2 separate regions of the Homo sapiens genome follow, and region 2 is linked to region 1. Evidence: fine-mapped expression QTL. Tissue or cell type: whole blood. Region 1 holds a variant in brackets; the other region holds the start of a gene. All regions are shown on one strand. Distances are between the middles of the regions.

The links. PIP is the estimated chance that this variant, and not a neighbour inherited with it, causes the effect.
Region 2: it holds the start of SLC43A2, and the variant in region 1 is fine-mapped to the expression of SLC43A2 in whole blood (TOPMed, PIP above 0.99).

What each region holds. Positions count from the first base shown.
Region 1 is chr17:1,576,127-1,578,830 of GRCh38, forward strand. SLC43A2 (solute carrier family 43 member 2) reads right to left here. Exons shown (of 14, transcript NM_152346.3): 12 at 2,124-2,197; 13 at 471-594. Among named protein-coding and RNA genes, the nearest start is that of PITPNA, 15 kb to the left of the region's middle. RefSeq lists enhancers at 1-202, 203-1,014, 1,015-1,826, 1,827-2,637. The variant C/T (reference allele first, on the strand shown) is at 1,267.
Region 2 is chr17:1,627,247-1,629,869 of GRCh38, forward strand. It overlaps SLC43A2 (solute carrier family 43 member 2), which reads right to left and starts at 1,588. Exons shown (of 14, transcript NM_152346.3): 1 at 1,548-1,588; 2 at 469-674. The coding sequence starts at 628. RefSeq lists enhancers at 1-298, 299-836.

The DNA of each region.
Region 1 (2,704 bases):
AGGCTGGAGTGCAGTGGCGCAATCTCAGCTCACTGCAATCTCCGCCTCCCGGGTTCAAGTGATTCTCCTGTCTCAGCCTCCCGAGTATCTGGGATTACAGGCACCTGCCACCACACCTGGCTAATTTTTGTATTTTTAGTAGAGACCTGGTTTCACCATGTTGGCCAGGCTGGTCTTGAACTCCTGACCTCAAGTGATGCTCCCGCCTCGGCCTCTCAAAGTGCTGGGATTACAGGTGTGAGCCACCGCGCCCGGCCCAGGAACTCTGTTCTATTTCTCCCCAAATCAGGTCCAGAGAGGACATGTTCCTTTTCCTGCCTAGCCACCATTCACAAAGGGACTCTTAACCAATCCTAACCAACGCTCCCACATGTCCTCGGGGCCCTGAAGCCCCCGAGGGGGACCTTGCAGCTCGCAGTTAGCAGAAGGGGGCAGGCGCCCATGACCCACCATCCCCCGACCCCTCTTACCCACAGAGGGTCTCCCTGGAGAGGACCCATCATGGCCAGAAACAGCGGCTGCTGCAGAAGGGCGAAGAGCGCGCTGATCAGAGACTGCAGTCCCGTGAGGCTGCCGAACTGGGTGGAGGGGTACCTGCAGGGCAAGCGACAGCTCACAGCCATCCTGCCTCCTGGGCTTTGCTTGGCCCCAGGTGTCTGGTGACCCCGGGCTGCACCGTTGGTGCCAGAGAAGGGTGGGGTGCCAGCCCTCGGATTCCTTCCTGCTGGGCAGTTCTGTTTTTTTTTTTTTTTTTTTAAGATGGAGTCTTGCACTGTCGCCTGGGCTGGAGTGCAATGACACGATCTCGGCTCACTGCAACCTCCGCCTCCCCAGTCCAAACAATTCTCCTGCCTCAGCCTCCCTAGTAGCTGGGATTACAGGCGCCCGCCACCACATCTGGCTAATTTTTTGTATTTTTAGTAGAGACGGGGTTTCACTACGTTGGCCAGGCTGGTCTCAAACTCCTGACCTTGTGATCTGCCTGCCTCGGCCTCCCAAAGTTCTGGGATTACAGGCGTGAGCCACCGCGCCCGGCCCTGCTGGGTGGTTCTGCAAAGTGTTTCTCTTTGGACCAGCTCCAGGCCCCAGACTCTGGGGAGGGCCCACCCCACTCAGCTGTGCCCAGGGCCTGTGGGTGTCTGGCTGAGCCGAGTGGAAAGCGTGGTGCCAGCGGGGACCTGCGGTTTGGGAAACAGGCCCAGAGAGGAGTGTGGAGGCTGGGCTTGGCTCTGCAGTGCCCTCGTCCAGAGAAGCATTGAGTAATCG[C/T]GGAAACTCAGCACCACAGATCCCGCCCCCCTCCCTCAGACCCTGCCAGGACAGCCACAGCTTCCTCCAGGCCTGGGGAGGGGCAGGCGGAGGGCAAGCGGAGCTGGGATTACCCCAGGGGCTGTTGCGGGAATTGGGAGAGAGTTCCGGGCTAAATCTTAGCACATGTCAGGCTCTGCTGGCCCAGAGGTGGGAAAGGAATCCCAGCAACACATGAGCTGGTCCCACATCAGAGACTGTGGATGATGATGTTTGAGTTTCAGTTTTTGGGTCAAGGCCTGAGCCAGAGAAGAAGGAACCACTGTGGTTCCTTTTATGTTTCTGGGGCTTCTTGGAAAAAGATACAGGTTTCATTTTAGCCAGGGCTGGAGAAAGCTATGGCCAGAGCTGGGCGCACTGAGGCTCTGGATGGGCCCGTCTGGTGTATTCTGGACTCAGTCACCCATGTTGCTGCCCGTGATGAGGGCAACTGGAACTTCCGCATTTAGCTTCAGGCAGCCAGAACCTACCCATCCTTCCCAGTGAGCAGCCAGGGCCAGCCCCAGGACTCGGCTGTAGTGGCCCCTGAGGCCATAATGAGCTGCACAGGTGCCTGACCCTGGCTGGGGGAACTGACTTCGTGTTGAATGCCAAGGCTTGTGAGCACCCAACTGTCTGCCCACTGACCTGCTTCCCACGAGGTATGGCCTTTCCCTGAAACACCCAGCAGAAACCCTGGTACCTGTCCCCTGAAGCAGGAAGATGAGCCCTTCTGGGACAGGCTGACCCTGCCTCAGAGTCTCAGTCCCACCAGCAACCTCCCCCCGGCCATTCCCACACCCTCGCCCACCAGGCCACCTGCGGCTTCCAGGACTTACACGGCAGCGTACAGGCCCCCGACAGCGGAGTGGATGAATCCTCGCACGATTGTGTGCAGGATGAAGGAGAGGATCTGGGGGAGGAAAAGGCGACTGTGGGCATAAGGCCTTAAGGGACCGTCCCCTCAGCCCCCGCCCTCCAATTCCTGGGGGCCCTCACCCCAGGGGCAGTGTCAGCCTGGAGTTGGATCAACCCCATCCTCCGGAGCCAATTGTGAATTTTCAGAAATTTTGCAAGCCAGTCGTTAACACAGTCATTTTTTGTTTGTTTGTTTGTTTTGTTTTTTGTTTTGTTTGAGAAGAAGTCTTGCTTTGTCGCCCAGGCTGGAGTGCAGTGGCGTGATCTTGGCTCACTGCAAGCTTCGCCTCCTGGATTCAAGCAATTCTCCTGCCTCAGCCTTCGGAGTAGCTAGGATTACAGGCCCACGCCACCATGCCCGGCTAATTTTTGTATTTTTTAAGCAGAGATGGGGTTTCACCATGTTGGCCCGGCTGGTCTCAAACTCATGACGTTGTGATCCACCCGCCTCAGCCTCCCAAAATGATGGGATTACAGGCATGAGCCACTGCGCCCAGCCTAA
Region 2 (2,623 bases), 51 kb after region 1:
CGTCTAGATTCTAGATGAGCCCTCCCTGGGGTGGAGGCAAGGCCACTTCCTCTCCTGCTGCACCCCAGCCCCTTAATCTGGAGTTCCTCTTTCTCACAAGCAGACAGCAACATGTTTACTACCAGCCAAGCTATGTTCCAGGGCTGGGAGGAGAGGAGAGCAGTCCAGCACTGTTCGTAGCGGGTGGAAGGAACACCCTGGACAGCAGGTGGGGTTCTGGGTGGATGGCAGGCCCAGGCTCTGCGGCCTTGCGCAAGACAGATCGCTCTGAGCCTCGATGTCTTCGTCCACAAAACAGGGGCAATGACAAGTACCCGGCAGGGCTGGGTGAGGATCAGATGGGCCTTCTGATACCCTAGAGGCACTGGGCAATGCGGTGCTGTGGCTCGCTAGGTCTTCGCCCCCATCCCGCCCCCTCCCAAAGCCCCAGCTCCAGGAGCCCCCCGCAACCCCAGGCGCTTGTCTCACCTGGCTCGGTACACAGGTAGGAGTAAAAGCCCTCTGACTTGAGCATGATGAGCAGCGAGCCCCAGCCCAGGAGGACTGCCGAGAAGAGGAGGTTCTCCAGCACGGCCGTGCAGGCCATCCACCAGCGGCGCCGATGGGCAGTGGCCAGGGTGGGCGCCATGGTGCGGCGCGGCGCGGCTCCGGCTCCGGCTCCGGCTCTGCACCACCTGCGCACAGAACTCGGCGTCAGCGGCCGGCCCTTGCCCAGCCCCTGCGGCCGCCCCCAGCAGCCCCGACCGCTGCCGCAGGGCTCGGGATTGCCACCCCTCCCCGGCCGCGGCGGCCGGTGCGCGCAGCAGAGGAAGCGAACCCCAGCCCTGCCCGGACCTGGGACACCCCGAGCCCGCGGCCGGCTCGTACCGCTGCCCTCCGCTACGACAGAGCCGCCCCGGCCAGGCAGGGAGACGTCTCCCGCAGCTCACTCCGAGGTAAACTGAGGCATGGAGGCAAGAAGGGGCTAACGCATGCTCAGGGCCGTGGAACTAGTCCTGGCCTGCAGCAGGACTGACATCGCCTGGGGCCAGCATGGAACGCAGCGTGAGGTGGGCAGGGGCAGATCCGAGGGCTGCCTCTCCCAGGGACCCTGACAGGTGCCCTCCCGCCCGCGCCCGAGACCCTTCCCCAGAGCTGGTTTCTTCAACCACAAGATCAGCGCCCAGACCTACGGAACGGCCCGCCCCGGCGCGCTCATTGGCCGGACGGCGCAGGAACTGCCGCGCCATTGGCCGCCGTCTAGGTCGCTAGGCGCTGCGGCCACGCGAACCCAGCGTGGGAGACGAGGAGCCGGTTCAAACCGGTGGCGCGAGCCAGCCGCGCGACCCCCATCTCGGGCGTTCCCCCGGCAACTCGCCCGTTTCCATGGCCTCGGACCCCCGCGCCTCCATTCCCCAGCCCGCATCTGTTCGTCATCTCTTCCCTGGCGGCCCCTCATCGCTCCATCTCTCTCCTCGTTCCCACGTTTTCTCCCTACGCCCCTTCGGCGGCCGCTTCTGCCCCCGCGCCCTCGCCCCGGCCGCGATCCCCTCCCTGCTGCAGCTCACCCGGCTCCTCCGGCGTGTGTCGGGCCCGCCCGGCGCCTTTTCTGCCCTCTTTTATTCCAGCCCTTTTATTCCGACCCCAAGAAGAAAACACTGCCGCCCGCTGATTGGCTGAGCGGGGCTGGAAACAGGCGTCGACCAATCAGCAGCCAGCCCCCCGCCCGCCCCGCCGCGAGCAGAAGCCGGTTCCGGCCGGACTCGGAGACAAACAAGAGAGATGGGGGACGGGAGGGGCCTGGGCGCTGCGGGCCGGGCCTCGGCTTTGCAGCCTTCAACCCGAGTCACAGCGCGGCCGGGAATCCCCGGCGACATCGCCCCGCGGCCTCTCCAGCGGCCTGACCCTGCGAGGCTGGGGCTCCGGCTCCGCGTCCCGGCCCCCAGCGGACTCCCCCCAGAAGCCGCCGGGCCACCAGCGCCCCCAGCCGGGCTCTCCCGCGGCCGCCCCGCCGTCCCCAGCTGCCCCCTGCGCGCGGGTCACCACGCCCAGATGCGCCGGCTCCGCACGGTGGTTCCACTCTCGAATCCCCACCCCGCCTCCTCCCCACGCAGCGCCGCCGTCCCCGCCGCCTCGGGCTTTGGGTCCTGGTTCCTCGCTCCCCCGCCCCGGTGGTTCCCGTCCCGGCGTATTCGGGGCCTGGGATCCCGGACCCGGTCCAGCCGTGGCGCCCCCCGCTGATGCACCGACCCCTTCCCCTCTCCCCGGTGGCGTCTGCCCGGTCCCTGGAAGTTGGCCCTTGGAAATCTGCAAGGGGATTTGGGGCTGGTCTGTCCCGTCCTAGGATGGGGTCTCCTGAGCTCCCCCCATCAGACTGACCTTTCTCCGCCCGTGTTCACGCACTGCTCGGTCCTCCGGGGACCCTCCACCCTTGATCGTCATCTGGGTGCTCCCTGCCCGCGCTGGCCACCTTCACCCCGTTCCCCGTCCCTTTCAGGGAAGGTCCCCTCTGCAGGGCGATGCTACGGGCCACGTCCGCCAGCTGGTACAAGCTAGGGAGGGTTCGAGGGGGCTCCGGGTCCCCGTCTGATAAGCCCGGGCTCCGAAAGCTCAGCTCCCCGTCTTCGTCCCCCGGATTCGAGGC